Linked DNA regions of Homo sapiens. The protein of the gene in region 6 purifies or fractionates together with the protein of the main gene of each other region. This does not show direct contact. Each region holds a gene or a part of one and is shown on either strand. Other genes may lie near its edges.

Region 1 (4,131 bases), on a different chromosome or scaffold from region 6:
TGGAAACAGTATTTTCCTGACAGCAGCCCTTGGATTTCCCGAGGCTTTGATTCCTGTTCAGCTGCTCTGGGTCAATCTGGTGACAGATGGCCTGCCTGCCACTGCACTGGGGTTCAACCCTCCTGATCTGGACATCATGAATAAACCTCCCCGGAACCCAAAGGAACCATTGATCAGCGGGTGGCTCTTTTTCCGTTACTTGGCTATTGGCTGTGAGTACAATTTTTTTATATTACTGATTTTTAAACAAAATGTTTGTGAGCTGAAATTTTGTAAATTCATCCCTTAAAAGCGTGTTTTTTCTTCTATCCCCGTATAGGGTAGCAAAAGACAGAGATGCCCTCTTACAGTTCGATGAACTATACATCCAATTTACCAGAGTCCTTTCACAGTTAGTTCCAGTTTTAGCATCCTGCCCTTACTTGGGCTTTTCTGAATGAGCAATTAAACATCAGGGTTTTCAGATTGAGCCCTCTGTGCAAAGGGATAAGAATGATTCACGCTAGGTTCTGCCTTCCAAGAGTTCATAGGTGGGATTTAAATAGATAATTGTCACCAAGTTATAAAATTTAGTCCCTGTTTCCATAAGAGAAGGGTTGCGCAGTGGCTGGTCCCTTTTATATATAAATCATCTCTTTAGCCCTCATCTTCCTCACCCCGGGTTCTTCCCCATTTCATAGATTGGGAAAGTGAGGTGAAATCACTTCCCTGGGATCCCATAGGAAGGCATTGTGTTTTCATAATATATTCACATGACTTCAAATTCAAAAAGCACACAATGGCATAGAATGGAAAGGGTTTGGGCCAGTCACTTCCCTCTGGCGTTGAGGTGCTCATGTACCCTGTGCCCTTCCGGAGAGATTCCAGCATGCTGTGCACACCTGCATGTTGACCCTTGTCTTGCCTTCTTCCTGCTTGTCAGATCCTTCCATATCCGGACATGCGTAGTGCCTCATCCTTGCAGCCAGCGGCCTTCATGCTCCACTGTAATTCGTGGGTTAGTGGGTATATGCACTTGTTGTTTTTGATGCTACCACATGGGGATATTTGCCTCGTCTGAACTCTGTGTATTCTCTGCTGCACCTTGTTGCTTCTTTGCAATAAACTTCCTGAACTCAAAGCTAATACTGGGGGGAATCCCAGAAGCTGCTGAGGGCAGGGCCATGCTGCTCAGTGTTCCACCCTAGCTCCTGACAGCATTTCCCTAGAAAACTGCTGCTGGGCCTCTAATGGAGCAAATAAATCTGTGTACAACTAGGCAGCAATAGTTTGTCCAAAAGTCCTGGTGTAATCTAGTCCCTCAAACTGTGCAGCCTTACATGGAGTACACACACACTTGCAGCCTTGAAGTACTACCCACTGAGGGGAGAAGGCACGGCAAGGGGAAAGGTTGGCACAGGATGGAGCAAGTGCTTTTTCTCACACATTCTGGAGGAAAAGTTATCCAGTTCTTCTGTTCTAGAAACACCCCTGTCCTTCAGAAACCAGGGTCTAGTTGCTCTGGCTACCAGGCGTGAGCAGGTGGTGGTAGCACCACAGGCCCCGGTTACCATCACTGTCCCATGTCTTTGATCTTCGTCCTTGTGGGGACTGGCCTGCATGGCCTCGGTGGCAGCGAGCCCTGCAGAGGCAAGTGCATCAGCATCACTGTGTTTGTTCCCAGGTTACGTCGGCGCTGCTACCGTGGGTGCTGCTGCATGGTGGTTCATTGCTGCTGACGGTGGTCCAAGAGTGTCCTTCTACCAGCTGGTACTCAGTCACCTTTCTTTCTGTACCTTACATGAGAAGTGTTGTGAGGCCTTGACCTTTCTGTGGTTTCGGTATCTATCAAATCATCTTAAGACTCAGACAATAAACAGTTACATCTAAGATGATTCTGAAGGACCAGGGCTTCTCCGAGAAATTGGGGTAAACCTCTTGGCTGGCTCTGCATTCAGGCTGGTCTGTGCTAGGCTTGGTATGGGGTTGGAGCCTGGACTTGGGAAATATACTGGGCTGATAGGAATTTGATTGGATTTTCTTGCAGAGTCATTTCCTACAGTGTAAAGAGGACAACCCGGACTTTGAAGGCGTGGATTGTGCAATCTTTGAATCCCCATACCCGATGACAATGGCGCTCTCTGTTCTAGTAACTATAGAAATGTGTAACGCCCTCAACAGGTTAGTGCACCTTCACGGCAGGCTGAGGCGAGCATGGTGACTGCCAGGGCACCGGGGAATTGTGTGTAGTCACGGTTGATTGAGGATCACAGGACAGTTCTTCCCTTCCCAAAAGAAAGGAGAACAGGCAATACCAGTTTTAAAAGCATGAGCTGTCGTCACCTCCAGGAAGTAGTGGGAGTGCTTAGCCCTGTGTTTCTTAGGAGCTCTTCCTTAAAAGAAACCGTGGGGGCCAAAAATAGGAACTTTGGTACCCCTGTATGCCAGCACCCACAGGGAAGGAACCTCACCCTTTCACACAGACAAATGGTACCATCCAGTTAAGCCCGTGACAAAAATGGAAATTTCTAAATAGCCCAAGTCTCCAGGGCAATTGGGAACAGCTTTGAACCCACTAAGATGGGGTCTGCTATGCCAAAACATAGATACAGAATTCACAGTTTGTCCTGCATTAGGACATTCTCTTCAACTTTGCCACTGTAGAAAGTGGAGGTAGGTCAGCGGATGGTGCCACATTAACAGCCGCCTTACTGAAGTGTAGTCCAACAGGGTCTTACTGCCACTGTGACACGTGCCTTGCCTTGGGGGTGCGTTTCCCCACCTCTCCTTGCTCTGCAGCTTGTCCGAAAACCAGTCCTTGCTGAGGATGCCCCCCTGGGAGAACATCTGGCTCGTGGGCTCCATCTGCCTGTCCATGTCACTCCACTTCCTGATCCTCTATGTCGAACCCTTGCCAGTAAGTGGTTGGGTGGGGCTTGGGACCAGCCACCTCCTTCCAGGGGAGGCTGGAGGCGTGACACGTCTTCCCTGTGTGTCAGCTCATCTTCCAGATCACACCGCTGAACGTGACCCAGTGGCTGATGGTGCTGAAAATCTCCTTGCCCGTGATTCTCATGGATGAGACGCTCAAGTTTGTGGCCCGCAACTACCTGGAACCTGGTAAAGAGTGTGTGCAGCCTGCCACCAAATCCTGCTCGTTCTCGGCATGCACCGATGGGATTTCCTGGCCGTTTGTGCTGCTCATAATGCCCCTGGTGATCTGGGTCTATAGCACAGACACTAACTTTAGCGATATGTTCTGGTCTTGACTGACAGTTTTCCATAAAGAAGATGTTTAACTTAATCAATTAATTTTTTTATTGTTTAAAGCAACTGTCTATTTCTGCTGAATTTTCACATGAACATACTGGCTGGTGATGGAGGTTTCATACTCTAGATTTTGTTTTGCTTTTTCTGACTCCAGTGGGGCAAGATTTTCCTTTTTTATACACATAATTAAAGTGTCCATTGACATGTACAGAGAACTAACACTATTTTATGCAAATATTTTTTTGTAGATGAAAAAGCATGTACAGTGTTCTGTTTAATACTCATCCTTGTATAAAAAAAATAGTTGAGCCAGCAGACATTGTCAGCAAATTAATTGGCAGCAGATTTTAGGAAATGAATGTGTGTGGTTTTTTTTCTAAAACTAAATAGCATGTATTGTGTCTTTTGCATGATGATCCGGATTTAATTTGATATCACAGTCTAATTTTTATTCATAAGCCAATTTTTCTGCACTGAGCAGAGTCTTGCTACCTCAGTCAGTATTGTTTTGGTTTGCTACTTCCCTCACCCACTTTGGCCTCCGTTCACCCCACCCCACCCCACCTCTCCCCACCTTACCCCCGCCCCGCTTGGCTTCTTCTTTAGGATTGTGATGGTTCGTTCTGTTTACATCAGTTTTAACGAGAGGTATGCCTGTACTCGCTTGTGCAGAAAACATTGTTCCAGATTCAATCGACTGGGTTTATGTCCCTTCACATAGTTTTTAAGGTTATTTATTTAAATGTCTAATGTATTTTATTGTAACAGACATTGTTTTGCCAACATTGCCTATTTCAGTGGCACGTCATCTAGTTTTAAAAAAATAAAACATTTTAAATGGACAGAGAAAAATAACTGTCTTGTCTTTAACTCGTAAGTGGC
Region 2 (4,131 bases), on a different chromosome or scaffold from region 6:
TACTTTTTGTTTTGTTTTGTTTTGAGACAGAGTTTTTTTTTGAGACAGACAGCCCAGGCTGGAGGGCAGTGGCATGATCTCAGCTCACTGTAACCTCCACCTCCTGGGTTCAAGTGATTCTAGCGCCTCAGCCTCCTGAGAAGCTGGGATTACAGACATACACCACCACACCTGGTTAATTTTTGTATTTTTAGTAGAGACAGGATTTCACCATGTTGGCCAGGCTGGTCTTGAACTTCTGGCCTCAAGTGATCCACTCACCTCGGCCTCCCAAAATTCTGGGATTACAGGCATGAGCCACCACGCCCGGCCAACACAACTTACTTTTTTTTGTGTGTGTGATGGAGTCTCGCTCTGTCACCCAGGCTGGAGTGCAGTGGCACAATCTCGGCTCACTGCAACCTCCGCCTCCTGGGTTCAAGCGATTCTTCTGCCTCAGGCTCCTGAGTAGCTGGGAATACAGGCACACACCACCACGCTCAGCTAATTTTTGTATTTTTAGTAGAGACAGGGATTCACCATGTTAGGCAGGACGGTCTCAATCTCCTGACCTTGTGATCCGCCCGCCTTGGCCTTCCAAAGTGCTGGGATGACAGGTGTGACCCACTGCACCTGGCCACAACTTACTTTTAAAAGTCATTCTTTTTTTTTTTTTTTTTTTGACTGTTGCTCTGTCACCCAGGCTGGAGTGCAGTGGCACAATCTTGGCTCACTGCAACCTCCACCTTCCAGGTTCAAGCTATTCTCCTGCCTCCATGTCGAGTAGCTGGGATTACGGGTGCATGCCACCATGCCTGGCTAATTTTTGTATTTTTAGTAGAGATGGGGTTTCACCATATTGGCCAGGCTGGTCTCAAACTCCTGACCTTAAGTGATCCACCCACCTCGGCCTCCCAAAGTGCTGGGATTACAGGTGTTAGCCACTGCGCCTGGCCTATAAGTCATTCTTATATTGTTTCTAACATTCCTATTTTATAATTAAAATGTAAGGAACCATAAACTCTCTATAAAATGCTATATCATCACAGACAGTCCCTCCTTTGGAACTTTTCCTGCTAAACAAATAGAATGAGAACATTGAAGGATACTGTAACATTTATTGTAGTGAAAATCAAAAACATACATGACCAAAAAAATGTGACTAGTGAATTAATATAGTCTCTGCATAAGATGGACTATCATGCAGCCATAAACAATTATGTTTTCAAATAAAACTGAAGACATGAGAAAAGACTCATGATAATAATGTTAGTTAAAAAATGATGATGGGGCTGGCCATGGTGGCTCACACCTGCAATCCCAGCACTTTGGGAGCCCAAGGCAGTAGGATCGCTTGAGGCCAGGAGTTTGAAATCAGCCTGGGCAACACAGTGAGACCCCGTCTCTACAAAAAATAAAAACAATAGCTGGGTATGGTGGTGCATGCCTCTAGTCCCAGCTATTTGTGGGGCTGAGGCGGGAGGATCACTTGAGCCCAGGAGGTCAAGGCTGCAGTGAGCTATGATCACACCATTGCACTGCAGCCTGGACAACAAAGTGAGACCCTGCCTCAAAAAAAATAAAAAAGATGATAAAAAATGCATACATGATATAACACCAAATTAGATGAAAAAATTATATACGGAAGACTTAAAAAATAGGGCAAAATATAAACTGGTTTTCTTAAGGTGGCGGTATTACAAATGATTACTTTTTATTTTATACTTACCTACATTTCTACAATGTTATACAATGAACATTCATTACTTCTGTAATGTAATTAGAAAACAACCTTAGTAATGTCATTTAAAAAAAAACAAAAGAATGCATGCCTGTAGTCCCAACTACTCAGGAGGCCGAGACTAGAGGGTCTCTTGAGTCCGGGAATTTGAGGTTACAGTGAGCTATGATCAAGCCACTGCACTCCAGCCTGGGTGACAGAGCAAGACTCTGTCTCTAAAATAAATTTAAAAAGAAAGAAAGAAAGAAGGGGATAAAGTTTTTTTCACCATATGGGGTTGAGTCTCAAGATCCTTGAAGTCGGCCTCCTTCACTCCAGACATGGTTTGGTAATAGTCTAGGTTCTGCTGCATTTCCATGTGCTCAGGATTGCCCACGAAGAAGGTGTGTGCTGCAGCAACAGCTTTCTCCAACTTGTTGATCTAAGAATGAAGCATGAGAAGGTGGATAATGCTCACATCCAATCTCTGAACGTTTGTGTCCACATGAGCAGTCCACATAAACAGGAAATCCCTGCCTCCCTGAGCCCTCCACTCAGCGTGCCCAGCCCCTGCCAGCCCCAGGAAGCACACCTATTGCAGGAACTACCCACGACAGATTAGGAGCATAGTGCCCTGGGCAGATTTGTAGCTCTTTCCCAAGTCAGATTTAGGGGTTCCCCAGATTACAGGAAGTAGCAATGTTCCATTTTAAAACAAAGGTCATATTGTATGGGGAGTGCTGTGAAAGACTGACTGCCCACATAATATGTTTTCATGCTGGGTGCGGTGGCTCAGGTCTGTAATCCCAGCATTTTTAGAGGCCGAGGCAGGTGGATCACTTGAGCTCAGGAGTTCAAGACCAGTCTGGGCAACATGGTGAAACCCTGTCTTTACGAAAAATACAAAAATTACATGGTACTATATGCCTGTAGTCCCAGCTACTCTGCAGGCTGAGGTGGGAGGACGCTTGGGCCTGGGAAGCAGAGGTTGCAGTGAGCCAAGATGGTGCCACAGCACTCCAGCTTGGGTGACACAGCAGGACCCTGACTCAAAAAAAAAAAAATACATATATATATTTCATGAATCAAATGTAATGCCTGAGCTGAAGAAATTCTGTGGCTTCAAGGATTTAGGGGTAGAGAAAAAAGAGCAGCTAACAGACTATGCCTAAGAATTTTCCTAGAAAAAAATTTTTTTTTGCATAAAATAAAATGAAGAATTTTTGAGACATTTAGGGAAAAGGTGGATGGCTAAAAATTCTAAGGTCCTTTACTAAGTCCAGACATAGTATTTTCTGACTCAAAGCTCAGGGCTCATGAGGTTCAAACAAATAGCTCTAAGAAATCTGAGGGGGTGGTCGGGGGCGGTAGCTCATGCCTGTAATCCCAGCACTTTGGGAGGCCGAAGGGGGCAGATCTCTTGAGGTCAGGAGTTTGAGACCAGCCTGGCCAACATGGTGAAACCCCGTCTCTACTAAAAATACAAAAATTAGCTGGGCGTTGTGGCGCACACCCGTAATCCCAGCTTCTTGGGAGGCTGAAGCAGGAGAATCGCTTGAACCCGGGAGGCGGAGGTTACAGCGAGCCGAGATCACAGCACCATACTCCAGCCTGGGTGACAGAGCGAGACTCTTGTCTCAAAAAAAAAAAAAAAAAAAAAAAAAAAAGAAATCCAAGGGGGGAGAAATAGGCTACAGACCACAATGCCCACAGCAATGGACTCCAGCATGTCAAAGTAACACAGGTTTCATATATAGAATCCAACCAAATAAATCACTGATGATCTAGTAATTAACTATGTGGACACTGGTATCAAAGAGACCAGCCGTGGCCAGGCACGGGGGTTCACGCCTATAATCCCAGCACTTTGGGAGGCTGAGGCGGGCGGATCATGAGGTCAGGAGTTTGAGACCAGCGGATCATGAGGTCAGGAGTTTGAGACCAACAATAGCTGGGCGTGGTGGCATGTGCCTGTAATCCCAGCTACTCAGGAGGCTGAGGCAGGAGAATCGCTTGAACCCAGGAGGCGGAGGTTGCAGTGAGCCGAGATCGCACCATTGCACTCTAGCTTGGGCAACAAGAGCGAAACTCCGTCTCAAAAGAAAAGAGGGCTGGGTGCGGTGGCTCACGCCTGTAATCCCGCACTTTGGGAGGCCGAGGCAGGTGGATCACAAGGTCAGGAGATCCAGACCATCCTGGCCAATATGGAGAAACCCCATCTCTACTAAAAATACAAAAATTAGCCGGATGTGATGGCACGTGCCTGTAATCCCAGCTACTCGGGAGGCTGAGGTAGGGGAGTCACTTGAACCAGAAAACCAGAAGTCAGAGGTTGCAGTAAGCCAAGGTCGCCACTGCACTCCAGCCTGGCAACAGCGAGACTCCATCTCAAAAAAAAAAAAAAAAAAAAAGAAAGAAAGAAAAGAGACAGG
Region 3 (4,131 bases), on a different chromosome or scaffold from region 6:
TTTGAATTCAGCCTGGTTTCTTCTAAGTTTTAGATCAAGGGATTAATGCCAAATTGCATTTCTGCCAAAAAGGTATCTATTTTCACAAATCCATTCAGTTTTGCAAATTAAGAGCTTTGGGTTTTCTGTGTATTGATTTTGTCGGGAGGGGAAAAAAAACCCCTCTACAAACATCAAAGGAGAAAAAAACTTCCTGTAGAAATCCTTTGGGTTAACAGCCAAGTTTTAAATATACAGCTTGATTCTTTGCTTGTCTGGCAGGGAAGGGCTCACCTCCATGTGCATTTTAGCCACCTCCCAATAAACCTGTTGACTGAAAAGTACTCACTGGAAAAAACCACTCTACTAAAGCCTGCTATTTTTCTAATGGGCCTTAAACCCAAGATTCACTGACAGCAGGCAATTACATATAAGCTCTCATTAAGAGAGGAAAATATGATCACTTTTATACTCTCAAAATAACAAGTCAAAAAAAAAATAAAATATTTTTGTCTAAAGTATCTATTTATCTGTGTTTTGTGCTCATGTTACCAAACATTTGAGTGCTATCTACATGCCAGGAACTGAATTCAGTGCTTTAATTAACTTGTTTAATTCTCATGACAATCCTTTTTTAGGCATTATTAACCTCATTTTATAAGTAAAGAAATAGACCCGCAGCATTTGAGTAATGGGCATAGGTCGGAGAGAGCACACTTCATTAAGACTCTAATAAAAACTTAAGTGAGATGTGAAGTGGCTAGAGACTGCCTGGCACAAAGTAAGCACAGAGTCACTGTTGGCATGTTGTTCTGAGCTGACTCGAGGCCTCCTCTTGGAGCTTAAAGTGCTTGTGTCAAGAAAAACGCTCTCAACCTTGTTCTTCTCTCCTTTTTTTTTTTTTTTTTTTTTTTTTTTTTTTGAGATGGAGTTTCACTCTTGTTGTCCAGGCTGGAGTGCAATGGCACAACCTTGGCTCACTGCAACCTCCACCTCCCAGGTTTAAGCAGTTCTCCTGCCTCAGCCTCCCGAGTAGCTGGGATTACAGGCATGCACCACCATGCCAGGCTAATTTTGTATTTTTAGTAGAGACGGGGTTTCTCCATGTTGGTCAGGCTGGTGTCGAACTCCTGACCTCAGGTGATCCACCAGTCTCAGCCTCCCAAAGTGCTGAGATTACAGGCATGAGCCACCGCACCCGGCCTCTTCTCTACTCTTACACCCCAACAATCAACACAGAAGATGACTTCTGTGAGCAAAGGTGTGGCGGTTTCTCCCCACCACCAAGGTTTCCTCCAATTCAATTCCAACACTATCTACCTGGAAAATCAGAAAAGTGGAACAAGATTAGAGTCCTGCCTTGCGACAGGTGAAAAGGAGGGCAGGAGAGAGATCCTGTTTCTTGAAGCCTGCCACTGAGGTCTAACACACCCAACATTATAACAAACGACTGTAATAAGGGCTATGGGAGTTATGAACCAGGAACTGTGGACAAAAACCAATATATATCAGAATACCACAGTACCCATGTCTCTTGATGCCTTACTGAAAAAATGCTACATATTGGCTTGCTATTCAAGTTATTCCCAGACATTTCAGTGATTATCTGGAAATAAGACATCCCTAGACTATTTACTTTTATAACATTTGTTACACATTTAATATCAAAATCCTCTACATAACAAGGATACATAACGCCTATTTTATGAAAAGGTTTCTTTAATTTTTGTACAAAACAATTTCCAACTAAATGATAGAATAACTAAACAAATGATAGTATAACCATAACACACTGCAATGGGCTAGCTGGGAAAAGTGCAAAAATGGGAATTGTTGAAGATTCAACTAGGTGAAAGATTCAACTCTATTTAACAAATGTAGAAAAATAAAGGGAAAATTTATCATCAAAAGGTCAAGGCATAAGCATGGCTTTGAAGCCAACTGCAAGTCCTGGTGTTCCCACTTACTGGCTCTCAACTGCTATAAAATAGGGAAAAGAAAATAACATCTACTTTCAAAAAGTTTCAGGGAAAAGAAACGGTAGCATATAAATGCCCAAATTCTGTGCATGTCACATGGTAGATACGCAGATGGTGTCTGTCATTTTCTTACTAGAGCCCCTGAGGTTAGACCTGTATGTAATACAGGGGAAAATATAATACGGAAAACTAGGATTTTGTACAACAGCTTTCAAACTAGAACATACCCGGCTCAAGTCTGTTCCATATTTACGATGAAGTTCATCAAGGCTAAGTTTATGATCATCCTAAGGGAAAACAGAAACAAAGAAAATAGTTAAACAGTGTAGTATAAAAAAATGACAGAAAAAATAGCATTATTCATTACTATCATTAAGCTTATTAAACAAAGTGCAGATGTTTTCTTCAGTGCATAAGTTGGTACAATTTTCACCATCGCTTTGTGGCTTTGCAACCACACAGTTATCATTGACAGCTCTTCACTGGAGAATGGCTAAAGCTGAGTGACCGTGGCCCATTACTATTTGCCATAACACTTCAGAGAAACCCAGCAGCTCTCAGGGATCTAGTAAAACCTTATCTGCCTTCTCTGATGACCAGGTCGATTCTAGACAGGTTAAGTCTATGGAAGCTTCCATCGCCTGGAGAGGCTGAATTTCCCAATGTTTGATATAATACAGAGAAAAGCAAAGACTCATGGTATCAACCTAAGTTCCTTCTGTTATCTCTGGTTATGCCAGAGTGACTGAATAACTTTTCCTACCCTCTAACAGCTTTTAAAAAGTATATGTTCAACATTAACCTCTACGACTAGATGAGATCTGTACAGCTGCTATGATCTCTTTTAATATATAGCAGTTCTTTGAAGAATACAGTGAGGCCTGGGGGATTAAAAATCATGGATTTTTAATAAGGATGGAATACAATATTCCTCCTAGTACTTACCATAGAAACTTCTTTCTTCAGTTCATCCATGTCCCTGTCTTTTTTGCCCTTTTTGCCCTTTTTATCACCTTGTTCTGAAACAGCTGCAGGCTCATACTTATCACGTCCAACCTGTAGGAGAATGTGGGAAAAGTGAGGCCATGAATTATGAACCTCATCTGAAACTGAAAATTCTGGAGCAGGGGATTTTGGTAGTTTTTAAGGTAGTCATAATTTGGAATAGTCATTAAGATAATAGTCAGGAAAATGTATACCCATATATTGCCTACTACATAAGCAAAGCAATCTACTATTAATACATTGGCTCAAGATACATTCTCTCCATCCAAGAGCATTAAGAACAATACTGAAGCTACCGGTAGGCTTCAGAATGGCCCTGCCAGTGCCACTTCCTTTTGGGGTTAATGAGGAGATTTTTGCTATCAAAATCCCTATTCTGCAGCCTTCCATCTTCCCTACTGAAAGAATGAAACTAACTTTACATTATTAACTTAGAGTGCAATATTGTGCTTATGAGTCCGCATTCTCAATCAGACAGCCTTGAGTTAAAATCCTGGGCTTTACCACTTACCAGCAGTGTATCCTTAGGCAAGTTACTAACTTCTACATTTCAATTTCCTCTTCCACAGCGTGGAGATAAAGAATAGTGCCAACCTCATTTCATGTTTTTAAGGATTAAATGATACAATACATCTAAATGCTAGTACTTTTATACTGTTTATATTCTTTGCTTTGCAAAGACATTATTACATATCAAATTTAAATATCTTTAGTGCTCACATAAGAACACTGACCTTTACCAGCTTCCCATATTAAAAAGTCAGCCTAAGACTCCTTAAAATTCTTTGCATAAGAGATAAAAAAGGGAGCGCCCAGCCCATTCTGTAGCCTGAAAATAAAACCTCCAAAATGAAAGTCTCTGGAAATGTTTTGACATAAGCAGGATGTAGGAAAAGCGTGTGCATTATCACATAATTCACAGGATCCACCTACGCCTCTTGAAAACTGGAACAATTTTTAAAGAAAATGTTGATTCTATAGTTTAAATTTAGATTGTTCCACTCCCCCACCCCTGTTGAAAAATCCTTGAGCTTATCTACACAAAGCCTGAACTTGGTGCTCCAAAGCTTAGCGGAGCAGAAGAGCCCCTTGTTCCAGACACCTCCCCCTGAAGCAGCCTCCCACAACTACAACTTAAGGCCAAAAAGTAGACATTAGCAATTTTCTT
Region 4 (4,131 bases), on a different chromosome or scaffold from region 6:
CGCCACCGCGCTCCAGCCTGGGCGACAGAGAAAGACTCTGTCTCAAAAAATATATAAATAAATAAATAAGTAAATAAAGGTTGTCAGGGGCTGGACTGGGGTTGAGGAGGAATGCTAATGGGTTCAGGGTTTCTTTCTGGGGTGATGAAAATGCTCTAAAATTGGACAGTGATGGTGGATATACAACTAAAACGCTGAATGTAAAGTGATGAATTTTATTGTATGTGAATTATATCTCAATTTTTAAAAGTAACGCTTTATATGTAATAAAATTCAGCATTGATGACAAAATTTAAAGGTCATAATTGGTTATCTTTATTTGCTTGAAAAGGTTTCGTGTTTTCTTGAGTATAAAAAGGAAATGCTTTTAATCAGCTAGAAGATAGGTGACTTGATCATTCAGGTAACAAAAAAAGTCATTAAATTTTCCTTAATAATTGCCTTACAATGTTGCATTAAACTACCTCTTTACCAGTTAATTGGCTATTGGTAGCTGCATATATGTTTAAGTTGGAGTTCTCAAAATTCTGTGAAACCAAGACAGAAGAAACTCTGGATGCTGAATCTAATGTTTGATCAGTGGCATTTTAATTCAGATCAGTTTTCTGTAATTGGTAAACTCAATGCAATAGCCTCTCTTTCCTTAATCCATAGGTAGGTAGGAAGTATTTGGAGGTTTTTTTCTCCTAATGATGCAATTTTTAAAACAATTGCTATTAAAACAATATAATTTATGTGATAGATTGCAAAATTTGCATAAATTTTAAAGCTACACATGTGACTCCAGTGAACTGTATTTTTTGGATTGGCTGTTGACCCCTAGACCCCTGGAGATGCATGTTTACTCTTCTATACAATTTGGGATATTTGAGAGGCACTGATACTTGAGAACAACAGTTGAAAATGCAAGAGTATGCCATCGTTGGGAAGGTGGATTCCACCATTCGCATTTTCCATTCAAGTCTTCAGGAAAAAGAAAAGTATAAATAGATTGCATTTTACACTTTGGTCCATCAACTACCCTTCAAATAATACACATTATTTATAAATTATTGTACTAAGCTATGCATAATAGCCCAGACTATGATACCAATTTTTTTCTACACTGTAGATGGTTTAAGCTATTATACAACATATAACCAAAACTACTTATTGAAGCACCTCCAGCTAATGACAGCTTTCTAATAGTATTTTGTGCCTTTACTTGTGAAAAGCTATCACTAAGTACAGCGTGAAGGCTAGATGACATGCTTCTATAGTTCCTCAGATGGCTAGGCCTGTTTGCATTTCTTAGTTCTCCCTGCTGCACTGTAGTCATTCTTCAGCTTGGTGTAGGGAAAGGGTTAAGGACTTTGAGGAGTTAAACTGACTTTGGTTCAAATCCCTACTCTTTTCTGTCAGTGTTACCTGGATAAATCATTTAACCAATACTGATCTCTTTTAATCCTTATGATAATCTTGTAAATATTATCTCAGGTTTAGAAAAGACTGACTTAGATAAAATAACTTGCCCAGAGTGAAGCGGGGTTTGAACCAAACTTCTTTGACTCCAAAATAGTCTTTAAATTTTATCATTAAGGTAGTAGTGAGATATTAAGGGTATCCAGGCATTAAAAGATAGAATATATAGAAAGCAAAGGTCTTGCTGCAAATCGTTGTCACCATTTGTAAACTGTGTATTGTTGGGAAACATCTTGTAATCCTTCTGATTCTTGATTTTCCTCATCTGAAAATGAGAAGGATGATGCCTCATAAAGTTGTATGTGTTTTTTCTAAGCCTTGCTTTTACTATCATTTAGCCTGGGGGCTGTGATACAATGAGGGATTAGCAGGAGGCAGAAATGAAAAGTTACAGTTAGAGTGGTAGTTGGAAAGGAGGAATGTTTCTGAATAGTCCATGAGCTCCTTTTTGCCCCTGCTCCTAACATATTACCTGGCACATGGTAGACTGTCAAAAGAATGATGTATTAATATTGCATGATGGGGTCATATGTCGTCTGCTATACTTTATTTATAGATAAATTTAAAGTCAATTTGGACTCAGAACAAGCAGTGAAAGAAGAAAAAATAGTGGAGCAGCCTACAGTGTCTGTCACGGAACCAAAGCTGGCAACTCCTGCAGGCCTGAAAAAATCCAGCAAAAAAGCAGAGCCTGTTAAGGTGCTGCAGAAGGAAAAAAAAAGGTAGGAAAATTTTGTTGCTTATTGGGGAAGAGTCTTTACTGGGGGTGAGAAGGTCTCTTTGGGCTTATTGACAGCAGGCAGTTTTCAGTTAAGTACTAAATCCTACTTAATGCCTAAGGGATACAACTATACAACCAAAATGGAAAGAGAAGCCCAGTAGCTTATCTAGTGGAGTAGGACCGTAGGATCAGCCAGTTTGGATGATTTAAGGACCAAAGTCGTGTTTTTGGCCGTATTGATCTAAATTGATTGTTGATTTTTGTTTTAAATTTGTGGACATGGCATAAGTGTGCCTAGTTGTGTGTGTGTGTGTGTGTGTGTGTGTGTGTGTGTTTCACTTCAAATTGCCAAATGAACAGTTACTGTTTCCAGTCAAATTTAAGAGAAAAACTTCTTTGTTTTCTTTTTATATCAATGAGTTTATTTTTCAAGTGGTAAAATGTAATTAGAAAAGAAAATAAAAAGCACATAAAGCTATTAAAACTAGATCCAGGAATTGGAGACACTACCTCATAGTTGGTAGAATTAGTCTGCTGAAAGAAATTCTAAAGGACACTGTCAACACTGATAGGCCTAGAAAGACGACTTTTGTGGCAAGTTTGGGACTACTCTCGTTGAAAACATCAACAAAATGGTGAAATTTTAGAGGGTTAAAGCTCTGTCCAGTGGGCCTCACCACCTAGGAACATATGACTTGTATGGATTAAAATGTCCACAACCATGGGTACGTCACTCACTGTTGATACTTATTGCCAGCAGTGCATTCAGTATTTCACTACTAAATGTGATGATAAATGTAGATTTTTAATAGATGCCGTTAACCAGATTGAGGAAGTTGTTTTTTGTTCCAAGTCTGCTAAGAGGTTTTATCATGAGTGGGTATTGATTTTGGACAGATGCTTTTTTGAATTGATTGGATGCTCAGATGGTGTTTTTATTAATGTGGTGAATTACACTGATTTTAAAATGTTAGGCCAACCTTGTGTTCTTGGGATAAACTCCACTTGGTTATGATGTATTATCCTTTTTTATATATTGCTGGATTAGATTTGTTAATATTACACTAAGCATTTGTTGCCTGTGTTTATGAGGTCTACAGGTCAGTTACATTCTTTTCTGGTAATGTCTTTATCAAGTTGCTGTGTCAAAATTGTGCTAACTTCATAAGATTACTCATGCGCTGCATAACGATGTTTGGGTCAACAATGGGCTGCATATATGACAGTGGTCTCGTAAGATTATAATGGAGCTGAAAAATTCCCATTGCCTAGTGACATCATAGCTGTCATGACATGGTAGCGCAACACATTCCTCACGTGTTTGTGATGATGCTGGTATAAATATACCTACTGTGCTGCCAGTCATGTGAAAGTATATCATATATATTAATAGTTATATATACATAATACTTGATAATAAAAATGACTATGCTACTATAATTACTGCACTATACTTTTTATCATTTTAGAGGGTAGTCTTTCTACTTATAAAAAAAGTTGACTGTAAAATAGCCTCAGGCAGCCCTTAGGAGATATTTCAAAAGAAGGCATTGTTATCATAAGAGATGACAGCTTCATGTGTGTTACTGCCCCTGAAGAAGACCTTCCAGTGGGACAAAATGTGGAGGTGGAAGACAATGATCATTGATGATCCTGACCCTGTGTAGGCCGAGGCTAATGTGTGTTTGGGTCTTAGCTTTCAACAAAAAAAGTTTAAAAAGTAAATAAAAAATTTTTAAAATAGAAAAAGGCCTATAGAATAGGGATATAAAGAAGAAAATATTTTTGTACAGCTGTACAATTTTTTGTGTTTTAAGCTGTGTTATTACAAAAGAGCCAAAAAGTTATAAAATTGAAAATACAGTTAAAGTAAGCTGTTTATTATTGAAGAAAGAAAAACATTTTAAAATAAATTTAGTGTTGCCTGAGTATCCAGTGTTGATAAAGTC
Region 5 (4,131 bases), on a different chromosome or scaffold from region 6:
GACACACATCACTGGGTAAGAAAAATGATTGTTGCTATTGTTCCTCCCCAAGCACCCTCTCAGGGTTTGCTACAGGAGCCCGCCTCCCTTACTCAGAGCAACCCCAGCTGTGAGCTCCTGTGTTTGGATTTCCCAGTTGAAGACTCAGCAAGATCACACAAGCTCGGAGTGCGGCAGCAGTGGCCCAGGGCACAGTGCTCCACTGGAGCCCCATACTCTGTTCCCAGTGAGACTGGCTCTCAGCCTGTTGGGTCAGACCTCAGTGGGTCGCACTGGTGGGTGTGGCACCCAGCATGGCGTCTTCAGGCCAGCAGGCACCTGGCGTGTTTGAAGGAATGTGCTGGGATGTGCTGCTGTCCTTCCTTAGCACAGAGGGATGCTGGGTCCCTGCAGTGATCCAGATGCCTGTTTTCCCAGCTGGTCAGCTTGTCAGAGGCTTTAGGATTTTACTACCCAGGGCGCTGGGGCCCAGGCCTGACTGAGGTTTCGTGCCTGGAATAAATGGACACAGGGACCTGCTGCCAGAGACTTGGGCCCTTCCTCATTTAATCTGCAGGAACCACAGGCTTGTTTTTGCTTGCTTTTGTTTTTTTGAGATGGAGTCTTGCTCTGTTGCCCAGGCTGGAGTGCAGTGGCACAATCTCAGTTCACTGCAACCTCTGCCTCCCGGGTTCAAGCGATTCTGTGCCTCAGCCTCCCGAGTAGCTGGGATTACAGGCGCCTGCCACCACGCCGGCTAATTTTTGTATTTTTAGTAGAGACGGGGTTTCACCATGCTGGCCAGGCTGGTCTCAAACTCCTGACCTCAGGCGATCTGCCCGCCTCAGCCTCCCAGAGTGCTGGGATTACAGGTGTGAGCCACCATGCCTGGTGGGCTTGGTTGTTTTTGTTTTTGTTTTTCTGAGACAGAGTCTCATTCTATTGCCCAGGCTGGAGTGCAATGGCATGATTTCGGCTCATTGCAACCTCCGCCTCCCAGATTCAAGCCATCCTGCTGCCTCAGCCTCCCTAGTAGCTGGGATTACAAGCGCCCACCACCATGTTCGGCTAATTTTTGTATTTTAGTAGAGACGGGGTTTCACCATGTTGGCCAGGCTGGTCTTGAACTCCTGACCTTGTGATTCGCCCGCCTCGGCCTCCCAAAGTGTTGGGATTACAGGCGTGAGCCACAGCGCCCAGCCGGGCTTGGTTTTCAATAGCCATGATGCTGCCGAGGGTGATAGTTAATGTCCTGTATAGACTCCAGACATTGAAGAGGACATTTGGCATGGCCAACCACTTGCATTAGAAAAATGTGAAAAATAGCAAGTTGTGAGCACAGCAGATACTTCTTTTGGTCTCCTACCATCTGTGTCCCCCTTGGGCAAACTCATTTCCCCCATTCCTCTTTACAGCTAAGCAAAGGCCTCCAGGAAGGCTTCCTGACTGATCCCACCTGAAACAGAGGGTCCTGCTAAGCGGGGTCCCCTTTGCAGGGTACTTTTCCCAGCTTGGCACTCAACATGCCAAGTCTGTTAAACTCACTACTTTGAGATCTTAAAAATCTGAAGGGTTGACTGGGCACAGTGGCTCATGCCTGTAATCCCAGCACTTTGGGAGGCCAAGGCAGGCGGATCACTTGAGGTCAGGAGTTCGAAACCAGCCTGGCCAACATGGTGAAACCTCATCTCTATTAAAAATACAATTAGCCGGCGTGGTGGTGTGCACCTGTAATTCCAGCTACTTAGGAGGCTGAGGCGGGAGAATCGCTTGAAACCGGGAGGCAGAGGTTGCAGTGAGCTGAGATCATGCCATTGCACTCCAGCCTGGGCAACAGAGTGAGACTCCGTCTCAAAAAAGAAAAAAAAAAAAAACCAATGGTAAAAATAGGGAGTAGTGCAGTGGACTGAATATTTTACTTATTCAAAATGTGGTGCAATGCAAACATATTTGCAGATTTGAATGAGTTCAGTAGAAAAAAATGGATTCATAAGTTGGATTCATAAAAGCAAAAAGCAGAGTAAAACCAAATACACTGAAAGAAATAGCAATTAAAGTAGTATTAAATGAACTCTAGCAAGGCACGGTGGCTCATGCCTGTAATCCCAGCACTTTGGGAACCCGAGGTGGGCAGATCACTTGAGGTCAGGAGTTCGAGACCAGCCTGGCCAACATGGTGAAACCCCATCTCTACTAAAAATACAAAAATTAGGCCGGGCACGGTGGCTCACACCTGTAATCCCAGCACTTCGGGAGGCCGAGATGGGTGGATTGCTTGAGGTCAGGAGTTCAAGACCAGTCTGGCCAACGTGTTGATATCCCATCTCTACTAAAATACAAAAATTAGCTGGGCATGGTGCTGGGCGCCTGTAATCCCAGCTACTAGGGAGGCTGAGGCGGGAGAATTGCTTGAACCCAGGAGGCGGAGGTTGCAGTGAGCTAAGATCATGCCACTGCACTCCAGCCTGGGCAACAGAGCAAGACTCCGTGTCAAAAAAAAAAAAATTAGCCAGGCGTGGTGGCACGTGCCTGTAGTACCAGCTACTCAGGAGGCTGAGGCATGAGAATCACTTGAACCTGGGAGGTAGAGGTTGTAGTGAGCTGAGATCGCACCACTGCACTCCAGCCTGGGCAACAGAGTGAGACTCTATCTCAAATAAACAAACAAATAAAAAAAAATAACTCTAAATAAAGTACTATAGGGTTTATTAATAAAACCAAGTGTGCTTTTGGAAGACTATCAGAATATCAGAATTCTGCCTAAATTTATTAAGAAAAGAGATATATGTATAAGTATACTATCTGAAAAATAAAGCAATTACTACAGATTTATCCATGAATTATGTAGAATTTTATGTCAATTTTTATTAACAAAATTAATTTTGTTCATGTAAAACGAAAAAGACCTCTATCCTGCCTACTTTTTTTTTTTTTTTTTTTTTGAGACAGATCCTTGCTCTGTCGCCCAGGCTGGAGTGCAGTGGCACAATCTTGCTAATCTCCACCTCCTGGGTTCAAGCAATTCTCATGCCTCAGCCTCTCAAGTCTCTCGAGTAGCTGGGATTACAGGCGCCCACCACTATCTCCAGCTAAATGTCTTTTGGGGTTTTTTTTTTTGTATTTTTAGTAGAGATGGAGTTTCACCATGTTGGCCGGGCTGGTCACAAACTCCTGATCTCAGGTGATCCGCCCGCCTCAGCCTCCCAAAGTGCTGGGATTACAGGCGTGAGCCACTGTGCCCGGATTTTTTTTTTTTTTTTTTTTTTGAGACAGGGTCTCACTCTGTCACCCAGGCTGGACTGCAGTGGCACCATCTTGGCTCACTGCAACCTCTGCCTCCCTAGTAGCTGGAATTACAGGCGCCCGCCACCACATCTGGCTAATTTTTTAATTTTTAGTACAGACGGGATTTCACCACATTGGCCAGGCTGGTCTCAAACTCCTGACCTCAGGTGATCTGCCTGCCTCAGCCTCCCAAAATGCTGGGATTACAGGTGTGAACCACCACGTCCGGCCTGTCCTGCCTACTCTTAAGGACTATGGCTTTCAAGAGAGCAGATGACTGTCCCCCCAGCACCCACAGGCCTAATCAGGGCAGGAGCTGGTGGCTTTGCTGGGAGGGGAAGTGAGTGGGAAGCAGCGGGCCGCTCGGCGAGGCACGCAGCCTGCTTGAGCAGGAGCTCTGAATGGTTTCCTTGCCTTGCACAGCCCTGATTGAGTCCCTCAACCAGAAACCACAGACTGCCGGTGACCAACCCCCACCCACAGACACAACCCATGCCACCCACAGGAAAGCAGGTGGGACCGATGCCCCCTCGGCCAACGGTGAAGCTGGAGGAGAGAGCACCAAAGGCTACACTGCAGAACAGGTTGCAGCTGTGAAAAGGTAGATGGGTGGGCAGGGGCTGGAGCCTGGGGAGACTGGGGAAATCTAGAGGCTTCCTGGAGCATGTCCTCCACCTCCCATCTGCCTGTGGGCAGCACAGGGCCCTGGGAGGGTCTTGGAGGATGGAGAAGGTCCAAGGGTCCAGGCTCACCAGGACCTCTCCTTATTTCCCTCAAGGCCCAGGAATACAGTGTGGGAACTGGGGCTCCACCACCCCTCCCGCCACGACCCACAGCAGAGGCTGGAAAAGCTGACACTGCCGGCTT
Region 6 (4,599 bases):
CATGAGCTTGAGCATGGAGCTTTTTTCATTAGAGAGAGATTCTTAAAATGCCAGAATGAATAGAGTTGTAAAACTTTAGCGAGCCCCTACTTAAAATCCCTCCTCCCCACCACCACTATTTTAAACTTTAAGTGACTCCTTGGTAGTCACACAGGTAACATTTCAAAATGGTGATCTGGAATCCAAGCGACCCTTCCTTTGGGGAATTTGTTTGTTTGTTTGTTTTTAGTTTGGGAGGTGGTTTCAATCTGAAGAGTCCTTTCTGGAATAAACGAATCTTTCTGTTGCATAGGAAGGCTCTGGGTCAGGAAGGATATTTAAAAACCTAATTACTGTTCTAAACAGTGTTAAAATAGAACAAGAACCAAAGCTCAGTACGGGGCATTTCCCTCATAGGCTGAAGGTGCGCCCAACATAATTTGGAGTACAGACTCAGAGGCACCTGAACACGCGCCAGCTCAAGGTGCTCCGGCTGAGAAGGACGGATGAAGATGAACGCTCAGGGCCTACTAAATTCAAAGTCTGTACGTGAAAATCCCCTTTGGCCTGGTGAGATTGGTTGGAACCTTCTATTTAGGAGAGCCCGGCTCGCTCGCCTAAAACTGGAGCTTGCATGGAAGAGGGCACTTTTTTTTTTTTTAGACGAAGTCTCACTCTTGTCGCCCAGGCTGGAGTGCAATGACCCGATCTCGGCTCACTGAAACCTCTGCCTCCTGAGTTCAAGCGATTCCCCTGCCTCAGCCTCCCGAGTAGCTGGGATTACAGGCGTCCGCCACCACGCCCTGGCTAATTTTTGTATTTTTAGTAGAGACAGGGTTTCACCATGTTGGCCAGGCTGGTCTCGAACCCCTGACCTCAGGCGATCCGCCCGCCTCGGCCTCCCAAAGTGCTGTGATTACAGGCGTGAGCCACCGCGCCGGACCAGAAAGAAGGCACTTCTTAATAGTAGGCTCAGAGCTTGAAGTAGTAACTTTGAGAAAATTCAGTGATTCTCCAATTACAAAGCATTCTCCAATTACAAAGCAAGGACAACAGATAAAGTTGCCCTTGAGACAACTGTATTTTACTTAATGATAAAGAAACATTTTTGCAGTTTTATATCCCAGAGTAACCGCCACTAAAGGCGAGTGAGACTCATTGCAGGCCTGTACAGTGCGAACCAGAGTTCGGGCTCCAGTTCCGCTGTCTGCGGGTCTCGCGCGCCCCCTCCCGGCGGCCCAGCCCAGAATGAAGGCCTTGGCTGGGGAAGCGAAAGCGAAAGCTGCCCGAGCCCTGACGCCCGCCCTGGCCGAGCGTAGCTGGCGGACCAGAGCCGGTAGCGAGGTTGGGAGAGACGGAGCGGACCTCAGCGCTGAAGCAGAAGTCCCCGGAGCTGCGGTCTCCCCGCCGCGGCTGGTGAGTTGGTGCGGAGGGGAACCTGGAGCGCCAACAGGGACGCAGCCCAAGTGACTACCCACTCCACGCTCCTGCTTCCCAGTCCCTCTGCACCCGGCGATAGGAGGGAGCGGAGCCCGGACCACTTAGCTCGCCGCGGCAGGCGGGGGTGGGGGTGGGGGTCCGGGGATTTTTTTTTTTTTTTTTTAAGCACGAGGCTCCTGATGGTCATGCTTCCAGCTCCCCAGAAGGCCGAAAGCTGTCTGTCGTAGGAGGGGTGTACGGATGAGCACCGGTTACTCAGGAGAGCTCTCAGGGTTGAATAGGATAAAATGAGAAGCCGATGGACGGGTTAGGCGGAGCCGGGCGGGTAGGAGGGCAGGGACAAGGATTGGGACTCCACCCCCATGATTTCTCATCTCGTATCCGTTGACAGAGCCATGCGGCTCCCTGACCTGAGACCCTGGACCTCCCTGCTGCTGGTGGACGCGGCTTTACTGTGGCTGCTTCAGGGCCCTCTGGGGACTTTGCTTCCTCAAGGGCTGCCAGGACTATGGCTGGAGGGGACCCTGCGGCTGGGAGGGCTGTGGGGGCTGCTAAAGCTAAGAGGGCTGCTGGGATTTGTGGGGACACTGCTGCTCCCGCTCTGTCTGGCCACCCCCCTGACTGTCTCCCTGAGAGCCCTGGTCGCGGGGGCCTCACGTGCTCCCCCAGCCAGAGTCGCTTCAGCCCCTTGGAGCTGGCTGCTGGTGGGGTACGGGGCTGCGGGGCTCAGCTGGTCACTGTGGGCTGTTCTGAGCCCTCCTGGAGCCCAGGAGAAGGAGCAGGACCAGGTGAACAACAAAGTCTTGATGTGGAGGCTGCTGAAGCTCTCCAGGCCGGACCTGCCTCTCCTCGTTGCCGCCTTCTTCTTCCTTGTCCTTGCTGTTTTGGGTGAGTCAGGAGAGGACGTTGTGAGTTGGAGGTGGTAAAAGGGCCTGGGCACCAGCACATTCTTGTGTTATTTTTCATGCCTCTTTCAGGTGAGACATTAATCCCTCACTATTCTGGTCGTGTGATTGACATCCTGGGAGGTGATTTTGACCCCCATGCCTTTGCCAGTGCCATCTTCTTCATGTGCCTCTTCTCCTTTGGCAGGTAGGTGGTGGGCAGCTGGGTCCATTTGCTAGCCCCAAATCTTTATAGGGGTCTTCACTTCCCTAACTCCATTTCTAGGCCCTTTCAGGCGCAAAACACAAAAATACTTAAACTAAAATATGGTGAATGTAGTCACCATTCTGTTTCATCTATCCATTCATTTCTTCCTTCGTTCATATTCATCCAATATCTTCAAAGTTTATCTGATCTTATTATAGGAACAAGTTATGAGTGAAGGTAGTACAAAAGGAATTTAAGTCTCAGATGGAATGTCTCTCAGTTGTCTCTCAACATTCCTAGGTCCATGAAATTCCATTTCTTTCTGCCTCCTACCTCCTACCCCTAAGTCTGTCTCCAAAGTATCTCTCCAGGGTCACTCCCTCAGGATGGGTATGCTTCTCCCTTTCACTCTTCTTTCCCAGCTCATCTTGCCAGTCCCTGAAGATCTTACTCTGAGGCTTATCACCTTTCTTTCCAGAATCATTACTCTTTTCCCTTCACTTGCTTTCCTTTCTCTTTCTAGACATACTCAAACAAACAAACTGTTTGATAAGGCTGGGACTGGGATGAGGTGAGCGAGGCACCTGGGGTGCAAAGTTTAAGGAGGTGTGCACTCACCTTACCCAAATCCCAGCCGGCCTGATTGTCTCTATTTTTATGGTCATACTTAATTTAGAGTACCCTCGAAAACCATTTCATTGTGCCTTCATTCCATCCTGGCTGCTTTCTGCTGAAACTACAGTCGTGCACTGCATAACGAAGTTTAGGTCAATGATGGGCCACATATAAGATGGTGGACCCACAAGATTATAATACCATATTTTTACTGTACCTTTTCTATGTTTAGATACACAAATACTTACTTCTGTGTTACAGTCGCCCACAGTGTTAGGTGCAGTTATATGTTGTACAGATTTGTAGCCTAGGAGCAATAGGCTAAACTACATGGCCTAGGTGTGCAGTAGGCTATGACATCTAGGTTTGTGTAAGTACACTCTATGATGTTCATACAACGATGAAACCATCTAACGACACATTTCTCAGAACACATCCCTGTCATTAAAGTACAAACCCTCATTATATCATGTCTGACTCTCCCAAACGCCTCTTCAATATGGTAACTAAATTTGTATTAGAAACATATATTTTGTAAAATACATGCTTTTATGCTTTATATTTTTTCCTCTAAGTGTTACTGTAGCATGTAGTTGGTCTAAGAGGGATTTTCCAACTCGAAGGATGAAAGATGGGAATCACATGACTCTGGGGCTCCAGAGAATTGTGGGGGCAGGGAATTTATTATTGCAGTTCCCATGATGAAGTATCTATGATGACAGAGAAGGGCTTTGGGTATGGGGCAGGAAGGAGACCAAGGCGGAGGAGACGCACAGAGGGACAAGCCTGAGGGACGCTGGGACAGAAGCAAGCACTGGGATACTTGTTTTCACAATATCTTTTCCCTTCTATTGTAGTTTTCTATTGTGTCTAGTACAGAGTGCACTCCATAAATACTTGTAAATTTGTACATGTTATGATTTTGTTCTCACATCTAGCTCACCATGTCTCCTCTTTCTTCTTCCTCTGTGTATTCCTTACCTCTTCTCTCTCTGTGTGTCTGTCTCTCATTTCTTTCTCTTTTGCCCCTCCTGGCATGCTTTCCCCTGACTTTGCGCTTCTCTGCACTCCTGGCTTGCTCCTCTGTTTCACCCGCTGGCTTGCTCCTTCTCTGCATCTCCCTCCCCTCTTATTCTCCTACCCCACAGCTCACTGTCTGCAGGCTGCCGAGGAGGCTGCTTCACCTACACCATGTCTCGAATCAACTTGCGGATCCGGGAGCAGCTTTTCTCCTCCCTGCTGCGCCAGGACCTCGGTTTCTTCCAGGAGACTAAGACAGGTGGGGCCTGGAGTCCAGGTCTGAGATTCCCATGGACATCCCTTGCCCCTCAGTGACCTTCCACCCACAGCCTCTCCTCCTGCCTTCACCCGTATGCCAGGACTTGGGGATGCTTTTCTCTTGTTTGGGACAGGGTGGAGAAGCAGCCTCCACTGTCCCTCTGCAAGTGAAGGAGGATGTTCAGAGGAGGGGGC
Region 7 (4,131 bases), on a different chromosome or scaffold from region 6:
TGCCTCACTGCCAGAAGCTCTTTGTGTATGACCTTCACGCAGTCAAGAACGACTTCCAGGTAAGCTCTGCCTCATTGGCCCCTGAGAGGAGAGCGGACAGTTTTTTTTTTTTCTTTCTAGATTTGCTTTTTCTTCCTGCTGTTAGTCCCTCAAAGCCCCCAATTTGTAAGAAATATTTATTATTAATATTTCATTAAGTAACTTTTCTAGTTATTGATTTTTCAGCAAAACAGATAATAATGAAGCAATGGCAGTATTTCCTTTTATTAGGCACATTTGTTTTCAGTTTCACTTTTTACTCAGAGAAGTGTAATTTATAACTTCAAGGGAATTAAAAACAATGTTTAATCTTTTTTTAATGCCCAGTAGGCATACTTAGCTTTGCCAAAACCTTGTCTCAATTTGAATATTTGATTAGAGGAGCTAGGCTCTGTCAGCTGTATCAGATTATGAATTTTTGATAACTTTTACAGTGGTGGTTAAACGAAGTAAGAAATTTCTCTTGAGTTTCTGCTGTGGGAAAGAGCAGAAGTGCTTTTCAAGGTTTCTGGACTGATCTTGTTGAAAATGCTAGTACTGGGTTCTTGTCTATGAATTGGAGTGTTCATGCAAATTCTGGTATATGACTGCTACCCTTTCTTTGCTAAGCACTTGGTTAGCCCATTTTAAGCATAATAATCCATTTCTTGAACACTGACACCTTTTCTTCATAGTGATATAATTAATACCATTGCTCAGATTGGCTTCACCAACTTACTGTGCAGGTCTTTTAGTTATTTATCCGTATTACTGATTTGTCAGAAGATAGTGTAGCTTCTGTATTATTTCAGTTGCTATAATGCAGTCCTTCTCAACCCCGGACACACATTAGAATCACCTGAAAAAACTTCAAAGATCTGTCTCCATATCTATACTTACGTGAAGGTATAATTTATACCTAGATTTATATAAACACAGTATCTCGCCCCAGAACAACTGAGTCACAGAGTCTGGTGGTGGCGCCTGGGCATTGCTGTACATTTAAAAACAACCCCTAGGGGATTCTAGTGTATGGCTGGCTTTGAGGACCACTAATGTAAGGGCCCCCGGGCCTTGGGTTGATACCTTCCTAATTTCTGGAGTTAATTTGGTTCGTTTGGCTAAGCCCACTCTGTGGGCATCTGTGCTTTAAAGGTGGTGACCTGCTTGGATGGAAGAAGACCACTCTTCTGTCCAGGAATGGGAATAGCCACATCCAGATTAACACTTAAAACACCTAAGAGGCTCTCAGTGTGTATTCATGAGAGATATGGGAGTTGCAGTTCTGCCTTGGGAAATCTAAACACACGCATACACATAAGAACGTGATCTGTAGGTCACAGGTGTACATGACATCCTTGGGGGGTGATCAAGGAAATAGGGACCAGTATTGGGGGCCTACCTCTGGAGAGTCTTAGGGGTGTGAGCCTTCAGTTTGGTCCAAAAAGAAGGGATGACTGTTAATTAGCAATGAAGAGAGGGAAGGGCATTTTACTTCAGGAAGTAACATGAATTTCAGACCCTTAGGAGTGTGGTACAGGAAGCGTGCTTTGAGGCAAACCCAGGCTTAGATTGGAGAAGTCCAGGAGGGCTCAGTTGATGAAGGGCTTTATTTTGTAAGTTCTGAACCTCCAGATTTTGGCAGTGAATGCAGAGGTACAGTCAGTTTTCTTTAGGTTGAGTTGCAGAAGCAGTGCTTTGCTGAGTGCAAGCCGGTAGCCAGTTACCAGTCTTTAGGGGACATTCACCTGTATAATAATATGCAGTGGTTTATTCTTATACCAGCTCTCATAGTTTTGTGTCCTTGAGTATGATTGCAACACATAAATTATTTAAAACTGTAGCTAGCAGCTTTATTTTCATTAACTGAAAAAATGGGGTTCTAGAAATGCAGTTTGTTATATCTTAGTAATTACAAACTCTCCATTTCCTTAATCCTCAGATTTTCTTAGTGGCTCTCAGAGCTTATCCCTGAGTAGAGTATTTTCATTGTAATATTAAATGTGGGGATAGAGGACTTGGAGCTGCCTCTTATGGTTTTTGAATCTGGTGTTCTGAGGAGATGACAGTCATCATCATCGGACATTGGTAAAGTCCTTGGCAGTTTCCTATGTGCTCTCGTGTACTGCCTCATTGATCATATTGATGGAGGTATATGCTGCCTAAAGTTTCAGTGTGACTCCGGTACTGTTTCTCCTTGAGCCCAGCTATGGCCTCAACACAGCCTTAGAGGCAGCCATCCCAGTTCAGCTGGGCTGGCAGGTGAGGTGAACTCTGGTGGCCAGTACAGTCATGACAAAGACTCTGCCTGGTGTCTTGCTTGGAGTAGAGACATATGTGACAGGTTTTGACAGTTGATATGCTCAGACTTCTCATTTGTATTCTTATTTCTGTTGGCAAGAGCACAGGTTGTATGACTTTACAAACTTTAGTTTCTCTGTGCCTCTTTTTCCTTAAGACAGTTGGCTGGGTGTGGTGGCTCACACCTGTCATTTCAGCACCTTGGGAGGCCAACGTTTGTGGATGGATTGCTTGAGCCCAGGAGTTCAAGACCAGCCTGGGCAACATGGCAAAACACCATCTCTACAAAAAATACAAAAATTAGACGGGTGTGGTGGTGCACACCTGTAGTCCCAGCTACTCAGGAGGCTGAGCTGCGAGTATTGATTCAGTCTCAGAGGGTTGAGCCTGCAGTGAGATGTGATCACATCACTGCACTACAGCCTGGGCAACAGAGTGAGACCCTGTCTCAAAAAAAAAAAAAAAAAAAGAAAAGAGTTACTATTACCAATGTTCGCAGCAGCATTATTCACAATAGCAAAAAGGCAGAAACCCAAATGTCTATTAACAGATACATGGATAAACAAAATGTGGTGTATACATACCATAGAATATTATTCAACTATAAATGAGAATGAGATTGATACATGCTTTACCATGAACCTTGAAAATATTATGCAAAGTGAAATGAGCAAATGCAAAAGGACAAATAAATGATCTTACTTACATGAGGTATCTAATATAAGCAAATTCATAGAGACATTAAGTAGAATAGTGTTTCCTGGGGCTAAGGGGAGAGGGAACAGGAAGTTAGCATGGCATTTCTGTCTAGGATGATGAAGAGTTCTGGAAATAGATAGTGGTGATGGGTGTACAATATTGTGAATTTGCTTAATACCACTGAATTGTATACTCAATAGTTAAAATTTTAACTTTTTTTTTTTTTCAACTTTTTTTTTTTTTATTGATCATTCTTGGGTGTTTCTCGCACAGGGGGATTTGGCAGGGTCATAGGACAATAGTGGAGGGAAGGTCAGCAGATAAACAAGTGAACAAAGGTCTCTGGTTTTCCTAGGCAGAGGACCCTGCGGCCTTCCGCAGTGTTTGTGTCCCTGGGTACTTGAGATTAGGGAGTGGTGATGACTCTTAAGGAGCATGCTGCCTTCAAGCATCTGTTTAACAAAGCACATCTTGCACCGCCCTTAATCCATTTAACCCTGAGTGGACACAGCACATGTTTCAGAGAGCACAGGGTTGGGGGTAAGGTCACAGATCAACAGGATCCCAAGGCAGAAGAATTTTTCTTAGTACAGAACAAAATGAAAAGTCTCCCATGTCTACTTCTTTCTACACAGAGACGGCAACCATCCGATTTCTCAATCTTTTCCCCACCTTTCCCCCCCTTCTATTCCACAAAACCGCCATTGTCATCATGGCCCGTTCTCAATGAGCTGCTGGGCACACCTCCCAGACGGGGTGGTGGCCGGGCAGAGGTGCCCCTCACCTCCCGGACGGGGCGGCTGGCCGGGCGGGGGGCTGACCCCCCCACCTCCCTCCCGGACGGGGCGGCTGTCCGGGCAGAGGGGCTCCTCACTTCCCAGTAGGGGCGGCCGGGCAGAGGCGCCCCTCACCTCCCAGACGGGGCGGCTGGCCGGGCGGGGGGCTGACCCCCCCACCTCCCTCCCCGACGGGGCGGCTGGCCGGGCGGGGGGCTGCCCCCCCCACCTCCCTCCCGGACGGGGCGGCTGTCCGGGCAGAGGGGCTCCTCACTTCCCAGTAGGGGCGGCCGGGCAGAGGCGCCCCTCACCTCCCAGACGGGGTGGCTGGCCAGGC

Evidence for each region.
Region 1: the proteins of TAP2 (region 6) and ATP2A2 purify together in Homo sapiens (affinity purification with mass spectrometry, with the first as the bait; one large-scale study listed by BioGRID). This does not show direct contact.
Region 2: the proteins of TAP2 (region 6) and P3H1 purify together in Homo sapiens (co-immunoprecipitation; one large-scale study listed by IntAct). This does not show direct contact.
Region 3: the proteins of TAP2 (region 6) and ATP1A1 purify together in Homo sapiens (affinity purification with mass spectrometry, with the first as the bait; one large-scale study listed by BioGRID). This does not show direct contact.
Region 4: the proteins of TAP2 (region 6) and POLD3 purify together in Homo sapiens (tandem affinity purification; one large-scale study listed by IntAct). This does not show direct contact.
Region 5: the proteins of TAP2 (region 6) and DNAJB12 purify together in Homo sapiens (affinity purification with mass spectrometry, with the first as the bait; one large-scale study listed by BioGRID). This does not show direct contact.
Region 7: the proteins of TAP2 (region 6) and UBAC2 purify together in Homo sapiens (affinity purification with western blotting; one study listed by BioGRID). This does not show direct contact.

What each region holds. Positions count from the first base shown.
Region 1 is NC_000012.12:110,343,223-110,347,353, forward strand, and holds part of ATP2A2 (sarcoplasmic/endoplasmic reticulum calcium ATPase 2), read left to right. Parts: intron 1-9; coding exon 10-212; intron 213-1,663; coding exon 1,664-1,749; intron 1,750-2,026; coding exon 2,027-2,160; intron 2,161-2,778; coding exon 2,779-2,896; intron 2,897-2,978; coding exon 2,979-3,248; 3' UTR 3,249-4,131.
Region 2 is NC_000001.11:42,760,335-42,764,465, forward strand, and holds part of P3H1 (prolyl 3-hydroxylase 1 isoform 1 precursor), read right to left. Parts: intron 2,142-4,131; coding exon 1,989-2,141; intron 1-1,988. UniProt on the Homo sapiens protein: Basement membrane-associated chondroitin sulfate proteoglycan (CSPG). Has prolyl 3-hydroxylase activity catalyzing the post-translational formation of 3-hydroxyproline in -Xaa-Pro-Gly- sequences in collagens, especially types IV and V.
Region 3 is NC_000001.11:116,382,897-116,387,027, reverse strand, and holds part of ATP1A1 (sodium/potassium-transporting ATPase subunit alpha-1), read right to left. Parts: intron 3,659-4,131; exon of another isoform or gene 3,475-3,658; intron 3,015-3,474; coding exon 2,904-3,014; intron 2,246-2,903; coding exon 2,186-2,245; intron 1-2,185. UniProt on the Homo sapiens protein: This is the catalytic component of the active enzyme, which catalyzes the hydrolysis of ATP coupled with the exchange of sodium and potassium ions across the plasma membrane.
Region 4 is NC_000011.10:74,623,391-74,627,521, forward strand, and holds part of POLD3 (DNA polymerase delta subunit 3), read left to right. Parts: intron 1-2,017; coding exon 2,018-2,183; intron 2,184-4,131. UniProt on the Homo sapiens protein: Accessory component of both the DNA polymerase delta complex and the DNA polymerase zeta complex.
Region 5 is NC_000010.11:72,344,684-72,348,814, reverse strand, and holds part of DNAJB12 (dnaJ homolog subfamily B member 12), read left to right. Parts: intron 1-3,687; coding exon 3,688-3,865; intron 3,866-4,131. UniProt on the Homo sapiens protein: Acts as a co-chaperone with HSPA8/Hsc70; required to promote protein folding and trafficking, prevent aggregation of client proteins, and promote unfolded proteins to endoplasmic reticulum-associated degradation (ERAD) pathway.
Region 6 is NC_000006.12:32,835,449-32,840,047, reverse strand, and holds the start of TAP2 (antigen peptide transporter 2), read left to right. Parts: upstream 1-1,308; 5' UTR 1,309-1,395; intron 1,396-1,810; 5' UTR 1,811-1,814; coding exon 1,815-2,307; intron 2,308-2,396; coding exon 2,397-2,511; intron 2,512-4,274; coding exon 4,275-4,405; intron 4,406-4,599. UniProt on the Homo sapiens protein: ABC transporter associated with antigen processing. In complex with TAP1 mediates unidirectional translocation of peptide antigens from cytosol to endoplasmic reticulum (ER) for loading onto MHC class I (MHCI) molecules.
Region 7 is NC_000013.11:99,238,496-99,242,626, forward strand, and holds part of UBAC2 (ubiquitin-associated domain-containing protein 2 isoform 1 precursor), read left to right. Parts: coding exon 1-59; intron 60-4,131. UniProt on the Homo sapiens protein: Restricts trafficking of FAF2 from the endoplasmic reticulum to lipid droplets.